Regions from separate parts of the Homo sapiens genome. Here region 2 is linked to region 1. Evidence: fine-mapped expression QTL. Tissue or cell type: whole blood. Region 1 holds a variant in brackets; the other region holds the start of a gene. All regions are shown on one strand. Distances are from middle to middle.

What was found. PIP is the estimated chance that this variant, and not a neighbour inherited with it, causes the effect.
Region 2: ZNF16 starts here. The variant in region 1 is fine-mapped to the expression of ZNF16 in whole blood (INTERVAL, PIP above 0.99).

What each region holds. Positions count from the first base shown.
Region 1 is chr8:145,029,851-145,040,747 of GRCh38, forward strand. It overlaps the pseudogene LOC124902043. Among named protein-coding and RNA genes, the nearest start is that of C8orf33, 17 kb to the right of the region's middle. The variant T/A (reference allele first, on the strand shown) is at 6,530.
Region 2 is chr8:144,947,425-144,955,315 of GRCh38, forward strand. ZNF16 (zinc finger protein 16) reads right to left here and starts at 3,456. Exons shown (of 3, transcript NM_006958.3): 1 at 3,373-3,456. RefSeq lists a silencer at 2,966-3,275 and an enhancer at 3,516-3,585.

The sequences.
Region 1 (10,897 bases):
TACTCCCCATATGCAGCTACAATTTGCTCTTATCACTTTAAATTTTTTGAATTTGTCTAAAGATAAGGTTACAACAACAGCAGAACAGCATTTGTCAGGGCAAAAATAAATCGTCATGAAGGAAAACATGTGTGGTGGAAGGAAGTCAGAATCAAAACCTGGGAAAAGGGCAAAATCATTACTTGGGGTCAAGCGTTTTCTTGTATCTCACCGGGAGAGAATCAGCTTCCTGTCTGGGTACACATAAGACATCTTAAGCTGTGCCATAAGCCAGAATCCAAGGAAGAGGTAAAGACCTTGGAATATCCCTTCACCCCCAGTTCATCAGATGGCTCAGATGAACATCTCTGTTGAGCAGATGGAAACCAGTAAAACCCACCAAGTAACTCCACCGACCTGGGGGCAGATGAAGAGACTAGCTCATATTACAGAAGAGAACCTGAGGTCTCAGAATAAGCCGCTGACCACCAGTAATCTAATGGTAGCTATGATGACAGTAATCTCCCTGGTGGTGAGTCTCCCCATAGCTGAGGCAGATCAAAATTACAATTATTGGGCCTACATTCCATTCCCACCACTGATTAGGCCTGTTACATGGTTAGACTTCCTGGTGGAGGTTTATGTTAATGATAGTGTCTGGATGCCTGGACCAACAGGCAACCGAGGTCCTACTCATCCAGAGGAGGAAGGAATGTTAATGAATGTTTCCATTGCTTATCACTTTCCTCCCATCTGCCTGGGGCCGACAGGAGGATGTTTAAATTATGATAAATAAAGTTGGATGGTTTATGTCCCTGCACATAGTGGATCAAAAGCCTGTATTCATGTAATCAGTGGAAGAACATTTCAATCTTTGGACACTATTAAATACCTTGTGCACGGCTATGTTATGACACATCACCAGATTAATAAATTTAAACCTAATAAGAAGCCCTGCCCTAGGCAGGCCACTAAATGGTCTGGAAAGCTAGAGGTGCTAACCTGGGAAGATTGTATTGCAAACAGCGATGCTGTACTGCAAAATAATTCCTATGGAATCATCATTGATTTGGCCCCTAGGAGAGGCTTTGCAGTAAATTGTACTGGACAGCGTGAAGATTGTAGAGAGACTCCTTTTGCAAACGACCACCCAGATTATGCACCAAAATTATATAGAAGAATGGAAGCACATTTCCCTATTAAGTGGGAGGGGAATGGTATGGCTCCTTCAAGCCCCAAAATAATTGATCCAATTATAAGTCCAGAACATCCAGAATTGTGGAAATTAATGATGGCTCAAACCCAATTCGGATTTGGAAAGGAGAATATAAAACAGAGACCCATAGTAAAAACTTCAATTTGTTGTAGCCATGACTTCTAATCAGATGGTCCCATTGCAGAGTTGTGTTAAACCTCCTCTTATGTTGGCAGTGGGAAAAATTAATATCCTACCTGACTCTCAAACCATATCATTCCTCAACTGTCATCTTTTTACCTGCATTAATTCTACCTTTAATAAAGATAATAACATTTTACTGGTTAGGGCCTGAGAAGGAGTTTGGATACCTATTTCCCTCAATAGACCTTGGGAGTCCTCTCCCTCCATACATATTATCACTGAATTACTAAAAGGAATACTTAATAGATAAAAGAGATGCATATTTACTTTAATAGCTGTGATCATGGGCCTTATAGCTGTCACAGCTGCTGCTGCTGTTGCTGGTGTTGCTTTGCACACTTCTATTCAAACTGTGGGCTTTGTGGATAGTTGGCAGAAAAATTCTTCTAAGCTTTGGAATCCCCAAAGCCAAATAGATCAAAAATTGGCAAATCAAATTAATGATCTCCATCAAACAGTAATGTGGATGGGAGATTGGATTATGAGCTTGGAGCATAGAATTCAAATGCAACGTGATTGGAATACTTCTGATTTTTGTATTACTCCTAGCTCTTACAATGCCAGTGAACACCATTGGGAGATGATTAGATGTCACCTACAAGGAAAAGAAGATAATTTATCATTAGATATTGCTAAACTGGAAAAACATGTTTTTGAGACATCTAAGGTTCATCTCACCCTGTTGCCTGGAGATGATATTCTTGCTGGAGCTGCTGATGGCCTTTCTAATACCAATCCTTTAAAGTGGATTAAAACCATAGGTGGATCAACAATTGCAAATTTTATTTTGGTTTGTGTCTGTTTATGCTGTTTGTTTTTAGTCTACAGATGTGGATGATGCCTTGGGAGAGAAGCCAGACACCGTGAATGAGCCATGATAGCAATGGCAGTTATTAATCAAAAAAAATTAATAAAGACAAAAAAGGGGGACATGTGGGAAAGAGAGTTTCTAGGGTGCCAGTTGAGTTGGTCTCCCCTGTGTGAGACACCCATGGGAAGCCATGGGCAGCCTCTGGGGGGAAAAGTCTCCTTATTGCCTTCATGTCTTTATGCCCTGAGAGCATAACTGCTCAGCAGCATTCCACAGGTTGCTCAGGGAGATAACACTCCCTTGAAGCAGTGGAGTATAATCAAACATCTTGGCTCCTCCTGAAACCCGCAAGATCTTAAGTAGTTTAGACATACACCTCTGCTCAAGGAAATTCACAGAAACCGCCACTGCTATACATCTTATCGAATGACTCACGAGTTCTCCTTCACTGATTAATCCTTTTTCCCACCCCTTCCTCCCCCTCCCATCTGCCTTAAGAACAAAGAGCTTGTAGACCAATAAATTGGGCAGAGCCTGAGAGCTCTGGGCCATGAGCAAGCCTCCAACACTCTTGTCCCCTGGACCTGCCTTTTAAATGCTTATTCTGTCTCTTTCCAACTCCTTTGTCTCTGCTGGATTTGGGGTACCCACTGGGTGTTGTGGGGCTGGTTTCCCCAACAGTGGAAAAAAGGCTGGCCTCACTGTTTATGGGTAGTTGTGGCAGTGGCAATCTCAGTATCAGAGGCTATGAAAATAATACAAGGAAAGGATCTCACCATCTGGACTACTCATGATGTAAATGGCATAATAGGTGCCAAAGGTAGTTTATGGCTATCAGACAACTGCCTGCTTAGATACCAGCTGCTACACCTTGAGGGACTGGTGCTTCAAATATGCACATGTGCAGCCCTAAACCCTGTCACCTTTCTCCCAGAGGATGGAGGACCAGTTGAGCACTACTGCCAACAAATTATAGTCCAGACTTATGCCACTGAGAGGATCTCTTAGAAGTCCCCTTAGTTAATCCTGACCCTAACCTATATACCAATGGAAGTTCATTTGTGGAGAATTGGATATGAAGGGCAGGTTATGCCATAGTTAGTGATGTAACGGTACTTGAAAGTAAGCCTCTTCCCCCAGGGACCAGTGCCCAGTTAACAGAACTAGTGGCACTTACCCAAGCCTTAGGACTGGGAAAGGGAAAAAGAATAAATGTGTATACAGATAGCAATCATGCTTATGTAATCCTACATGCCCATGCTGCAATATGGAAAAAAAGGGAGTTCCTAACCTCTGGGGGAACCCCCATTAAATACCACAAGGAAATCTTGGAGTTATTGCACGCAGTGCAAAAACCCAAGGAGGTGGCAGTCTTACACTGCAAAGCCATCAAAAAGAGGAAGGAGAGCAGAGAACAGCAGCATAAGTGGCTGGCAGGGCACTTGACAAAGAGAAGGACAAAGAGAAGGAAAGAGAGAGAGAGGGAGAGAGAGGAAAGACAGAAAGTCAAAGAGAGAAGGAAAGAGAGAGGGATAGAGAGAGGGAAAGACAGAAAAAGAGAGAAGGAAAGAGAGAGAGGAAGAGACAAAGAGGAAGTCAGAGAGAAAGAAAGAGAGACAGAAAGTCAAAGAGAAGGAGAGGAAGAGACAGACAAAGAGGGAGTCAGAGAAAGAGAGAAAGAGACAAAGTCAAAGAGAGAAACAGAGAGACAGAAAGTCAAAGAAAGAGAGAGAGAAGTATTAAAGAAAAAACAGTGTACCCTATTCCTTTAAAAGCCAGGGCAAATTTAAAACCTATAATTGATAATTGATTTAAAACCACAATGAGATACCATCTCACACCAGTTAGAATGGCAATCATTACAAAGTCAGGAAACAACAGGTGCTGGAGAGGATGTGGAGAAATAGGAACACTTTAACACTGTTGGTGGGACTGTAAACTAGTTCAACCATTGTGGAAGTCAGTGTGGTGATTCCTCAGGGATCTAGAACTAGAAATACCATTTGACCCTGCCATCCCATTACTGGGTGTATACCCAAAGGACTATAAATCATGCTGCTATAAAGACACATGCACACGTATGTTTATTTCGGCATTATTCACAATAGCAAAGACTTGGAACCAACCCAAATGTCCAACAATGATAGACTGGATTAAGAAAATGTGGCACATATACACCATGGAATACTATGCAGCCATAAAAATGATGAGTTCACGTCCTTTGTAGGGACATGGATGAAATTGGAAATCATCATTCTCAGTAAACTGTCGCAAGGACAAAATACCAAACACCGCATGTTCTCACTCATAGATGGGAATTGAACAATGAGAACACATGGACACAGGAAGGGGAACACCACACTCTGGGGACTGTTGTGGGGTGGGGGGAGGGGGGAGGGATAGCATTAGGAGATATACCTAATGCTAAATGATGAGTTAATGGGTGCAGCACACCAGCATGGCACATGTATACATATGTAACTAACCTGCACATTGTGCAGATGTACCCTAAAACTTAAAGTATAATAAAAAATATATATATACAGAAAAAAAAAGTCTTCTCCAATACCACCTTGTTGTCAGTGTAAACAAGGGTATAGCCCGAAAGCACTGAGGCCACTGACAACCCATAGCATTCCTATCAAAAATCCTTAACCCAGCAGGTTTCCTAACAGGGGATCTAAATTAATTACCATACAAAGGTCTGAACATACCTAAGAGGAACTCCCTTCAGGACAGGATAATAGATGGTTCCTTCCAGGCGATTAAGGGAAAAAGACACAATGGGTATTCAGTAAGTGATAAGGAAACTCTTGTAGAAGCAGAGTTAGGAAAATTGCCTAATAATTGGTCTGCTCAAATGTGTGAGTTGTTTGCACTCAGCTAAACCTTAAAGTACTTACAGAATCAGGAAAGAGGATCTATACCAATTCTAAGTTAACATGGACTGAACGAGGTCTTATTAATAGCAAAGAATAATTGAAATCCCAAACTTCCAAGGTTTTCAACAAAAGTAGTTTGCTAAAAGTTAACAGTGTAATATTTATTATTCTAACTTCTTATCTTGTGGAAATCAGACCACATCAGTGCCCCTCAAAGCTCAAGTCCATCAGTGCAGGGCCATACAACTACTACCCCTACTTATAGGGTTAGAAATGGCCACTGCTACTGGAACCAGAATAGCAGGTTTATCAACTTCATTATCCTACTACCACACACTCTCAAAGGATTTCTCAGTTCGCAATAAATAACAAAATCTATCCTTACTCTATAATCCCAAATAAACTCTTTGGCAGCAGTGACTGTCCAAAACTGCTGAGGCCTAGGCCTCCTCACTGCTGAGAAAGGAGGACTTTGCACCTTCTTAGGGGAAGAGTGTTGCTTTTACACTAACCAGTCAGGGATAGTATGAGATGCCATCTGGTGTTTACAGGAAAAGGCTTCTGAAATCAGATAATGCCTCTCAAACTCTTATACCAACCTCTGGAGTTGGGTGACATGGCTTCTCCCCTTTCTAGGTCCTGTGAAAGCCATCTTGCTATTATTCACTTTTGGGCCCTGTATTTTTAACCTCCTTGCCAAATTTGTTTCCTTCAGGATTGAGGCCATCAAGCTACAGATGGACTTACAAATGGAACCCCAAATGAGTTCAACTCAAAACTTCTACCGAGGACCCCTGGATTGACCCACTGGCTCTTTGGCTGGCCTAGAGAGTTCCCTTCTGAGGACACTACCACTGGAGGGCCCCGTCTTCACCCCTATCCAGCAGGAAGTAGCTAGAGTGGTCATTGGCCAATTCCCAACAGCAGTGGGGTGTCCCGTTTAAAGGGGGGATTGAGAGGTGAAGCCAGCTTGACTTCCTGGTTTGAGTGGGGACTTGGAGAACTTTTCTGTTTTACAAGAGGTTTGTAAAATGCACCAATCAGTGCTTTGTAAAAATGCACCAATCAGCACTCTGTAGCTAGCTAGAGATTTGTAAAATAGACCAATTAGCACTCTGTAAAATGGACCAATCAGCACTCTGTAAAATGGACCAATCAGCAGGACATGGGCAGGCACAAACAAGGGAAAAAAAGCTGGCCACCCCAGCCAGCAGTGGCAACCTATGGGCTAATGGCAGCATACTCCAGGCAGCCTAGTCCTGTCCTCTTTGCTTCTTCTGCTTGGTTCCATATAATTCAGCATTTTTTTTTTGAGATGGAGTCTCACTCTGTTGCCCAGGCTGGAGTGCAGTGGTGTGATCTTGGCTCACTGCAACCTCCACCTCCCAGGCTGAAGCGATTCTCCTGCCTCAGACTCCCAAGTGGCTGGTACTGCAGGCACATGCCACCATGCCTGGC[T/A]AATTTTTGTAATTTTAGTAGAGATGGGGTTTCACCATATTGGTCAGGCTGGTCTTGAACTCCTGACCTCAGGTGATCCACCTGCCTCAGCCTCCCAAAGTGTAATTCAGCACTCTTCAATTATACATATTGAAATATGCATTCAGAAAAGTACTTAAATCATAAATATGTACAACTCAATTTTGAGTATGTGAACAAGAAAGTAACCACTATCCACATAAAAATGCAGAGCAGATTAGCACCCAAAGCCTCCTTTGCGCCCACTCCTGGCTATTACCTTCAAAATGCTACCTAATGAGAGGACTCAGAGTGCCATATAAAACTATAAAGGTGACAACTGGAACAGAAATTAAAATCTTGCTAAATATTGGAAACAACAATAAAAAGGATTGAAAGGGAAAGAAAGAGTTAATATTGCTATGGTTTGGATGTGTGTCCCCTCTGAATTTCATGTTGAAATGTGATCCCCAAAGTTGGAGGTGGGACCTAGTGGAAGGTGTTTGGGGATGGATCCCTCATGAATGGCTTGATGCCTTCCTGGAGGTAATGAATGAGTTCTCACTTTGTTACTTCATAGAGAGCTGGTTGTTTAAAAGAGGCTGGCTCCTCTCTCTTGCTCCCTTTCTTGCCATGTGACATGCCTGTTTCCTCTTAGCCTTCTTCCATGAGTAAAAGCTTCCTGAGGCCTCACCAGAAGCTGAGCAAATGCCAGCACTATACTTCCTGTGTAACCTGAAGAACCATGAGCCAAATAAACCTCTTTTCTTTGTAAATTACCCAGCTTCAGGTGTTCCTTCATAACAAAGTGTAACAGATTAACACAAATATATAATCAAAATATAATATGACAATTAAAACAAGAACAACTATCTTAACAAATGGGATTAACTCACCTCTTTTAGAAAGTATATAGATTTGAGCTGGGTGTGGTGGCTCACGTCTGTAATCCCAGCACTTGGGAGGCTGAGACGGGTGGATCACAAGGTCAGGAGTTCAAGACCAGCCTGACCAATATGGTGAAACCCTGTCTCTACTCAAAATATGAAAATTAGCCAGCCATGGTGGCATGTGCCTGTCATCCCAGATACTTGGGAGGCTGAGACAGGAGACTGGCTTGAACCCAGGAGGTGGAGGTTGTGTGAGCCGTGATCAAGCCACTGTACTCCAAGCTGGGTGATAGAGCAAGACTCTGTCTCAAAAATAAATAAATAAATAAATAAAAATAAAAAATATATCTTTTCAAATTGGAATGAATTAATGGCATTCACAGCAACCTGGATGGGACTGGAAACTATTATTCTAAGTGAAGTAACTTAGGAATGGAAAACCAAACAGTGTATGTTCTCACTCATAAGTGGAGCTAAGCTATGAGGATGCAAAGGCATAAGAATGATATGATGGACTTTGCTGACTCACAGTGAAAGGGTGGGAAGAGGGTGAGGGATAAAAGACTACAAATTGGGTTCAGTGTGTACTGCTTGGGTGATGGGTGCACGAAAATCTCACAAATCACCAGTAAAGAACTTATGTAACAAAATACCACCTGTTCCCTAAAAACCTATGGAAATAAAAAATTTAAAAAGTATATATATATATATATACATATAAAGTTTCAAATTGGATCACAAAACAAAGTCCAACTCTTAAAATACAGTGATTCTGAAAGGCTAAAAATAAAAGAATAAGCAAAGTATACCAGGGAAATCTAAACAAGAAGAAAGCATGACATTAAGATGGTAATCTTAATATCAGACAAGGTGGAATTCAGGTTAAAATGCATCAAGTAATACAAAGAAATTTACAATGATAAAGGCTATGATTCCCAATGCAAATTTAGCAGTTATGAATATTTATGCACCAAGGAGCACCGAGCTGCTCTTGTGGATTGTCACAGTAATGGCCACAATGGAGTGTGCCTCCTGGTATACATGCCCTTCTCACACCAACCGTGGACTTTAGTCAGTGTGAAATAAGCAAATGTCACAAGCAGAGAGTTGATAAGAACTGTCTAGCTGAGCCCAGTCTAAATTTTAGAATTGTGAGCAAATAAATGGTTGTTTGTAACGTGAATGCCTATAGAAGAGGAAAAAATTAATAGGATGGATGAAACTTATAAAAAATGTTAGTAAGGTAGTAGCTTTTGAAGTATTGATAAAACTCTAGATATGAGCAAGCAACTAGTGTGTGAGCTATAGGCAGGACTAGTAAGATATGTTACATGTAGATAGGAAGTTAGTATCCTGTAGGACATGCTAAAGATGGAACAAATGGAATGTATAATGCAATCAACAAGAGTATTCCTTTAGATAAAAAGAGATAGGAAGATCAAGTCATAAGGTGTGATCAGGCCACTTCTGGGCTCTGTGTTATGTCATCATTTCATCAGCTACTCATTTGTGACACCCATTATGGTCCCATTCAGGTTCCACATGTGCTCTGCCAAGAAATGCAGATAAAACTTAGGGTTTTGTTTTTGTTTTTGTTTTTTTTTAGCAAGCTAATTGGTAGACTATGCTGTAGCCAGGAGTACCTGGTCTTGCATCCCTCTGCTAGCACAAGCATGTATATTGGCTGCAGGTAACGTCTATCTGTGGGCAACCTAAAGGAATTGATCTTTCAAAAAGTCAATTTCTGGTTTCATGGATTTTCTCTGCTGGTTTCCCATTTTCAATGTCATTGATTTCTGCTCAAATTTTTATTATTGATGTTGGGAAAGGCAGTCTTGTGCATGTAGTTTTTCAGCCTCCACCCAATCATATAAGAATGGGCCTTGGGTCCAGAACACTTCCTTATGAGAGAGATAAAGAGCCCTCACAGCATGTGCTGGGCTTACTACTTTGTACAGGGACATTATTCCCTGTTATAGACTCATATGTAGTCCTCTGTTCTGCTTGAGTGCATGCATTGATGGATCTCAGGCACACCCATAGCTTTCTGTGTTTCAGACCCGATGGGAGAGGAGTTGGGGTTCTTCTACTGCAGCAGGAAGTGGGGTGTGGGGTGTGCAGCTACACTGCCCACATTGGCTGTCGATATAGTTCATATATTTGTCCCTGCCCAAATCTCATGTTGAATTGTAATCCACAGCATTGAAGATGGGGCCTGGTGGAAGGTGATTGGATCATGAGGGTTGATTTCTCATGAATGGTTTAGCATCATTCTCTCCATGCTATCCTCGCCATAGTAAGTGAGTTCTCTTGAGACCTGGCTGTTTAAAAGTCTGTGGCACTTTCCTCTCTTTTACTTGCTCCTGATTTTTCCATGTGATGTGCCTGCTCCCCACTTGCCTTCTGCCATGATTGCAAGCTTCCTGAGGCCTCCCCAGAAGCTGAGCAGATGTAGAACTATGAGCTAATTAAACCTCTGTTTTTATAAATGACCTGGTTGTAGGCATTTCTTTATAGCAATGCAAGAATGGCCTAACGCAGCTGTGATGTGAAACTGCTGTCAATGGGGGAACTGTGCATTGCAAAGGGCTGGATCCTGTGCATTCTTTCTCCTCTTGTTGTAAGAAAATGACATACCACTTGAGCCTGGTGTGTGTGCCACTTGTTTTAATGACCCAAAATCATGCATAGGCCTTCCCTCAGTGGCACTTATCTATCTTATAAACTTGGCTGCACAACCTGGTCACCCAGTGAGTGGTGAAACAATTTATTCTGCTTACTTTGATTTGATTTATTCTTTTTTCCCTAGTTTCATAAGGTGGAAGCTTACATTATTGATTGTATCTTTCTTCTAATATGAGAATTCCATGCTATAAATTTATCTCTAAGTACTGCTTTCACATCTCACAACTTTGTGAGATAAATAAGTTGTATTTTCATTTTCATTTAGTTTGAAATATTTCTAAATTTAACTTGAGAATTCTTCTTTGACCCAGCTGTTATTCAGAAGTGTGTTGTTTAATCTCCAAGTATTTTGGAGTTTTCCAGTGATCTTTCTGCCATTGATTTCCAGGTTAACTTCTTTGCCATCTGAGACCACAGATTGTATGATCATATACTTTATGTATTTTTTTCAGGCAGGGTCTCACTCTGTCCCCCAGGCTGGACTCTAGTGGTGTGACCACAGCTCACTAAAACCTCTGCCTCCTGCGTTCAAGTGATCCTCCCATCTCAGTCTCCTGAGTAACTGGAACTAAAGGCATATGCCACCACACCTGGCTAATTTTTGTATTTTTTGTAGAGATTGGGTTTCACCATGTTGCCCATGCTGGTCTTGAATTCCTGGGCTCAAGCAATCTGCCTGCCTTGGCCTCCTAAACTGCTGAGATTACAGGTGTGAGCCACCATGCCTGGCCCTATTCTTTTAAATTGATAAAGGTGTGTTTTATGGCTCAGAATGTGGTCTCTCTTGGTGATTGTT
Region 2 (7,891 bases), 84 kb before region 1:
CTCCTTGTTGCTGACATTCACAATGCTCTGAAGCTGGGCAGGCCAGACCCACCTAGAGTGGGAGAACAGCAGCTCCAAAGGGTGAACAGCCAGGGGCAGCCTGTGCTGCAGCCCCACATGTCATCATTATGTGTCAACGCCTACCAAATCCTAGTGGTCAGTTCTATCTGAGTTGCACCATCCTGGCAGCACCCACAGCAGGTGTTCCCATCTTTACTTGCACCAGCTACTCCCTCCTAGCCTCTCATTCCCCATTTCATGTTGGCACCCCAGTGTGCACTTCTGCACTGCCACCAACTTCCTTGGTGATTATGTCCAGTCTTGAGGCATCAACACCCTTGTTAAGATTCACAAACTTGGGCTCATCTCCAGTCCTAACTACTCCCTGTGAGCAGGAGAGAGGACACTCCCACGTGGCGGCATGACGGGCTCCTCACATGTTACTGATTCCCCCACCCCTCACTGTGTAAATGCACCATACCCTGCCCGGGTGCCCACTGGGAGCACTGACATACCTCAGCCCTTCACTCACATTGTACTGACATTGACTCTTCTGTCCTTCATGAGCACCAGCTGAGAATGAGGGTGTGGTCAAGGGGATCTGCAAAGGGGATGTGAAGAAAGGTGGCAGAAGGATGGTGCAGGGAGTCAACGTGATGGTACGTGTCACCCATAGGCCATGTGGGGAAGAAAGAAGGGCTGGGTGGTGCTCCTGGACTCAGATCACCATCAAGGAGAAGGCAAGGAGATATGAACAGAGCTCACAGGGATGGTTACTATGGACCAATGATAAGGGGCCTTGGCTGCCAGATGAAGGTGAAACACTGGCCACATTTCTGTGTCAGGAGAGACAAAACTAATATCTCAAGATTAACTTGGCAGGGTGCTCAGAGGAATGGTGGGAGATGAGATTCAAAGCAGGTACAGCACTAAGGTGCCTACCACGTGGCAGCAGAAATGGAGGAGACATGGGCGATGGGGGTGACAAGGCCCTCTGTGACTGCATCTGCCTGCCCTTACAGTGCAGATGCCCAGTTTCCTCGAGGGAAACCTCTCCCCATCCAAGTGGTGATGTAATAATCTGCAATATTTATTTAGTTCATTTTATTTAAAAATACTTTAAATTCTCATTGTTTCTGAATAGGGGCATAGTCACCTCAAAATTTAAAAGGTAAAAAGGATTTATGGTGAAAAATTCCCCAAACATCCACACAGTTTCCCTTGTTTCTAGTGTACCGTTCCAGATTAATCTAGGTTTACACAGCAAATATATAAACATATGTTTGCCTTTTAATGATAAATTACACCCAACTATGCTATGGCTTCACACCTTATTTTTCTCACTTCATTATGTGTGGGATCTTGCTTACCAGGACACAGAATAAATGCCCCCTCTCACCCAGGTCCATATCCTAATCCCTGGAACTTGTGCTTATGTTACACTACATACCAAAAAGGACTTTGCAAAGGGAATTAAGGTTATGGACGTGAATTACCCTGGTGGACCCAATCTAATCAAATGAGCCCTTAAAAGCCTGAGAAAGATCTGAGGGCCACATGGAAGGACCTCGGAGAGCTAAGGATCACTCAGGCTGGCAGCCAGCACTTCTGAGGACCAACCTCAAGAAAAACAGATTCGGCCAACAGCCTGAACAAGCTTGGAAGTGGAGTCTCCTGGCTAGAGGCTAAGCCTGCTCTTTAGGAGTCACACAACTGGAAGAGCCAGCCACCACCCTCCCATAGCAAGCAGCCACAGGATGGGCCCTGGCCGATCCCTCAGCACCTTCCCCCTTGGGGAAGAACTGGCCCAAACTCTCCTCCCTTCCCAGAGTACCTCCTCCACACGCAGAGCGACTCCACTACTGACTGGGCCTCCCAGGCAGGACATCTGAGGCTGAGCGAAACCCCCTTTCTCCCCCAGCTCTGCTCAGTGCATCTCTGACTTCTCATGGAACACCAGGAACCACGAACCCACCCTTGTCTCCCATGCGCTGGGAACCACCCCATCGCACTGCTGCCCCATGTAGGGAAAAGAAAGAAAGATCAGACTGTTACTGTGTCTGTGTAGAAAAGGAAGACATAAGAAATTCCATTTTGACCTGTACCTTGAACAATTGCTTTGCTGAGATGCTGTTAATTTGTAACTTTGCCCCAGCCACTTTGCCACAACTTTGAGCTCACAAAAACATGTGTTGTATGGAATCAAGGTTTAAGGGATCTAGGGCTGTGCAGGATGTGCCTTGTTAACAAAATGTTTACAAGCAGATGCTTGGTAAAAGTCATCGCCATTCTCCAGTCTCAATAAACCAGGGGCACAATGCTCTGCGATAAGCCACAGGGACTTCTGCCTTGGAAAGCCGGGTATTGTCCAAGATTTGTCCCCATGTGATAGTCTGAAATATGGCCTCATGGGATGAGAAAGACCTGACCGTCCCCCAGCCCAACGCCCGTAAAGGGTCTGTGTTGAGGTGGATTGGTAAAAGAGAAAAGCCTCTTGCAGTTGAGATAGAGGAAGGCCACTCTCTCCTGCCTGCCCCTGGGAACTGAATGTCTCGGTATAAAACCCGATTGTACATTTGTTCAATTCTGAGACAGGAGAAAAACTGCCCTATGGTGAGAGGTGAGACATGTTGGCAGCAATGCTGCCTTGTTATTCTTTACTCCACTGAGATGTTTGGGTGGAGAGAAACAAATCTGGCCTACGTGCCCATCCAGGCATAGTACCTCCCCTTAAACTTAATTATGGCACAGATTCTTTTGCTCACATGCTTTTTTTTGCTGACCTTCTCCCTATTATCACCCTGCTCTCCTACTGCATTCCTCTTGCTGAGATAATGAAAATAATAATCAATAAAAACTAAGAGAACTCAGAGACCGGTGCCGGTGCAGGTCCTTAGTGTGCCGAGTGCCGGTCTCCTGGGCCCACTGTTGTTTCTCTACACTTTGTCTTATTTCTTTTCTCAGTCTCTCGTCCCACCTGATGAGATATCCCACAGGTGTGGAAGGGCAGGCCACCCCTTCACCCCGTCGCTCCGCCCGAGCTCGAATGGTGGCACCGACAGGCGGGAACGCCACCAGCCTGTGGGCGGAGTCCTGGCTCGGCCCCTCGCGGCGACCTTACCCCGGGGTCTCCCCGGAGACCCCCTACCGGAGGCAGCCCCCAGAGGCTCTGACCTCCAGCCCAGGCCGAGCTGCCCCCGCCCCGCCCCCCCCGCGCTCCCACAACCCCCCGCGCGGCTCCGCCCCCGCCCGGGGTCCCCAGCTCGCTGCCCGCCCCGTCTGAGCCCTGAGAGGCCCCTGGGCCCCCCAACCACGGGGGCATCAGGGACAACCAGACGCAGGGTCCCAGGCGTGGAGCTTCGCGGAACTAACCTCAACGGGTCGCGCTTGGAAAGGAGGCAGCACCGTGGCACGAAGACGTCTCAGCCAACGCCGGCTGACCCCCGGAAGTCCCGCCCCGAATTCCGGCCCGCCGCTCGTTCTATCTGGGGCAGCGTAGCCTCTCTAGATGGCGGGAGGCCGGGGCGACTCTGTGGTTCAGCCCCAGACCTGGTCCCACTAGCCCTGAGGCCAGAGACCCTTCTGTTCCCCTTTTTTTCAGAGTTGACCCGTGCACTGAACAAGGCGGCAACTGAAGAAAAGGGGACACTAATAGAAATGCAGAGATAATGAGATATACTCGTGTAGTGGGAGATTTTAATATACAGGCCCCCAGAATCGGAACAGACGGTAGTTTGATAAAAACCTAAGGATACGTTTTTTGGAAGAACTGAATCATTCAATCAGTAAGTGATTAGATAGATAAATGGAAGAATTCAGATTCCTTCAGTAGATAACATGTTTTCGTGAGATTGTGCATGGATCGTTTCTAATACGGAAATGAATTGTACACTTGGACATAAAGAATACAAATAAGGCTGGGTGCGGTGGCCCACGCCTGTAATTCCAGCACTTGGGAGGCCGAGGCGGGCGGATGGCTTGAGGCTAGGAGTTTGAGACCAGCCTGGGCAATATAGGGAGACTCCATCTCTACAAAAAATACAAAAGTTAGCCAGGTGTGATGGTGTGCGCCTGTAGTCCCAGCTACTCAGGAGGCTGAGGTGGGCGGATTGCTTGAGCCGGGGAATGTGCGGCTGCAGTGAGCCGGGATCACATGTTGCACTGATGAGAGAGTGAGACCCTGTCTCAAAAAAAAGAAACAAACAACAACAACCAAAAAAAACCTCACAAATATTTTGACGTTCATTTTGCAGGCAGATTAAACTATCAAAATCAGGAATACATAATAAAAAATGCATGACAAACTCTATTGGAATTTAAGAAACACTGTCTAGATAACCCCCCCCCCTTTTTTTTTTAGTTCAGGCTGAGGTGCTCTCAGTTGGAGATGAGGAACTTATTGGAAGCTGGAGTAAAGGTCACTCTTGCTATGCTTTAGCAAAGAGATTGGTGACATTTTGGCCCTACCCTAGAGATCTGTGGAACTTTGAGCTTGAGAGAGATGATTTAGGGCATCTGGCAGAAGAAATTTCTAAGCAGCAAAGCATTCAAGATGTGACATACCTTTTTCTGAAAGTGTACAGTCATATGCATTCACAAAGAGATGGCCTGAAATTGGAACTTATGTTTATTTTTTTATTTATTTTTAATTTTTTTATTTCCATAGGTTTTTAAATTTTTATTTCCATAGGTGGTGGTGTTTGGTTACATGAGTAAGTTCTTTAGTGGTGATTTGTGAGATTTTGGTGCACCCGTCACCTGGGCGGTATGCCTTGAACCCAATTTGTAGTCTTTTATCCTTCACGCCCTTCCTGCACTTTCCCCCTGAGTCCCAGTCCCCAAAGTCCATTGTATCCTTCTTATGCATTTGCATCCTCATAGCTTAGCTACCTCTCACGAGTGAGGACATACGATGTTTGGTTTTCCATTCCTGAGTTACTTCACTGAGAATAATAGTCTCCAATCCCATCCAGGTTGCTGTGAATGCCATTAATTCACTCCTTTTTATGGCTGAGTAGTATTCCATCATATATATATGTATGATGGAATACTACTCTCTATATATGTATAGATATATACATATATACACACATATATACACACACACATATATATATAAATATATATATGCTACAGTTTGTTTATCCACTCGTTGATTGATGGGCATTTGGGCTGCTTCCACATTTTTGCAGTTGTGAATTGTGCTGCCATAAACGTGCATATACAAGTATCTTTTTCGTATAATGACTTCTTTTCCTCTGGGTAGATACCCAGTAGTGGGATTGCTGGACGAAATGGTATTTCTTGGTAGTTCTACTTTTAGTTCTTTAAGGATTCTCCACACTGTTTTCCATAGTGGTTGTACTAGTTTACATTCCCACAAGCAGTGTGGAAGTATTCCCTTTTCACCACATCCACGCCAACATCTATTATTTTTTGATTTTTGATTATGGCCATTCTTGTGGGAGTAAGGTGGTATTGTTTTGTGGTTTTGATTTGCATTTCCCTGATCATTAGTGATGTTGAGCATTTTTTCATGTTTGTTGGCCATTTGTATATCTTGTTTTGAGAATTGTCTGTTCATGTCCTTAGTGCACCCCCCACTTTTTTTTTTTTTTTTTTTTGAGATGGAGTTTCACTCTTGTTGCCCAGGTTGGAGTGCAATGGTGTGATCTTGGCTCACTGCAACCTCTGCCTCCTGAGTTCAAGCAATTCTCCTGCCTCAGCCTCCTGAGTAGTTGGGATTACAGGCATGCGCCACCATGCCGGGCTAATTTTGTATTTTTAGTAGAGATGGGGTTTCTCCATGTTGATCAGGCTGGTCTCAAACTCCCAACTTCAGGTGATCCACCAGCCTCGGCCTCCCAAAGTGCTGGGATTACAGGAGTGAGCCACCACGCCCGGCTGTTAGCCCCCTTTTTGATGGGATTATTTTTTCGTGCTAATTTGTTTGAGTTCCTTGTAGATTCTGCATATTAGTCCTTTGTTGGATGTATAGATTGTGAAGATTTTCTCTCACTCTGTGGGTTGTCTGTTTACTTTGCTGACTCTTCCTTTTGCTGTGCAAAAGGTCTTTAGTTAAGTCCCACCTATTTATCTTTGTTTTTGTTGCATTTGCTTTTGGGTTCTTGGTCATGAAATCTTCGCCTAGGCCAATGTCTAGAAGGGTTTTTCTGATGTTATCTTGTAGAATTTTTATATTTTCAGGTCATAGATTTAAGTCCTTGATCCATCTTGAGTTGATTTTTATAACGTGAAAGATGAGGATCCAGGATTATTCTCCTACATGTGGCTTGCCAACTATCCCAGGGCTATTTGTTGAATAGGGTGTTCTTTCCCCACTTTATGTTTTTGTATGCTTTGTTGAAGGTTAGTCGGCTGTAAGTATTTGAGTTTATTTCTGGGTTCTCTATTCTGTTCCATTGGTCTATGTGCCTATTTTTATAGCAGTACCATGCTGTTCTGGTGACTATGGCCTTATAGTGTAGTTTGTTTCATGTGCATCCATGTGAAGAGACCACCAAACAGGTTTTGTGTGAGCATTATTTCACCTGGGTGCAGGTGGGCTGAGTCTGAAATGAGAGTCAGTGAAGGGAGATAGGGGTGGGGCCATTTTATAAGATTTGGGTAGGTAAAAGAAAATTACAGTCAAAGGGGGTTGTTCTCTGGTGGGCAGGAGTGGGGGTCACAAGGTACTCAGTGGGGGAGCTTTTGAGCCAGGATGAGCCAGGAGAAGGAATTTCACAAGACAATGTCATCAGTTAAGGCAGGAACAGGCCATTTTCACTTCTTTTGTGGTGGAATCTCATCAGTTAAGGCAGGAACCAGCCATCTGGATGTGTACGTGCAGGTCACAGGGGATATGATAGCTTAGCTTGGGCTCAGAGGCCTGACATTCTGGTCTTCTTATATTAATAAGAAAAATAAAGTGAAATAGTGGTAAAGTGTTGGGATGGTGAAAATTTTTGGGGGTGGTATAGAGAGATAATGGGTGATGTTTTTCAGGGCTGCTTTGAGCGGGATTAGGGGCAGCGTGGGAACCTAGAATGGGAGAGATTAAGCTGAAGGAAGATTTTGTGGTAAGGGATGATATTGTGGGGTTATTAGAAGAAACATTTATCATGTAGAATTATTGGTGATGGCCTGGATATGGTTTTATATGAATTGAAAAAGTAAATGGAATAAGAGAAGGAGAAAAACAGGTATAAAAGGTCTAAGAATTGGGAGGACCCAGGACATCTAATTAGAGAGTGCCTAAGGAGATTCAGCATAGTCCTGCTAGCAAAGATTATTTATTTACTTCAAGAGTTTAGAGTGGCAGTTTGGGGATAGCGCCAGGAGATATCAGCTGTGATGGCTTGCAGAAACAGTGTAAACCAGCTGTGTAAACAAGAGGAGGGCATGTATGAGTAGTTGAGAATGGTGAATAGGAGTATGACTAGATAGAAGATAGTAGGGATGACAAGTTTTTTTTGGGGCACAGTCTAAGTTGGTCTGCTGTCTGGAATGAGACCGGGGCCTAATAAAAAGGAGCATCTCTACAGGAGCTCAAATGGGCTGTACCTTGTAGCATTCTGAGGACAGGTCTGACTTCTGAGAAGGGAAAGTGGTAAAAGTGTTGTCCAGTCCTTTTTAAGTTGGTGGCTGAGCTTGGTGAGGTGTGTTTTTAAAAGACCTTTAGTCAGTTCTACTTTTCTTGAAGATGGAGGACCATAAGGGATATAAAGGTTTCACTGAATACTAAGAGCCTGAAAAACTGCTTGGCTGATTTGAGTAATAAAGGCTTGTCTGTTATCAGACTGTATAGAGGTGGGAAGGCTAAACTGAGGAATTATGTCTGACAGAAGGGAAGAAATGACTGCGGTGGCCTGCTCAGACTGTGTAGGAAAGG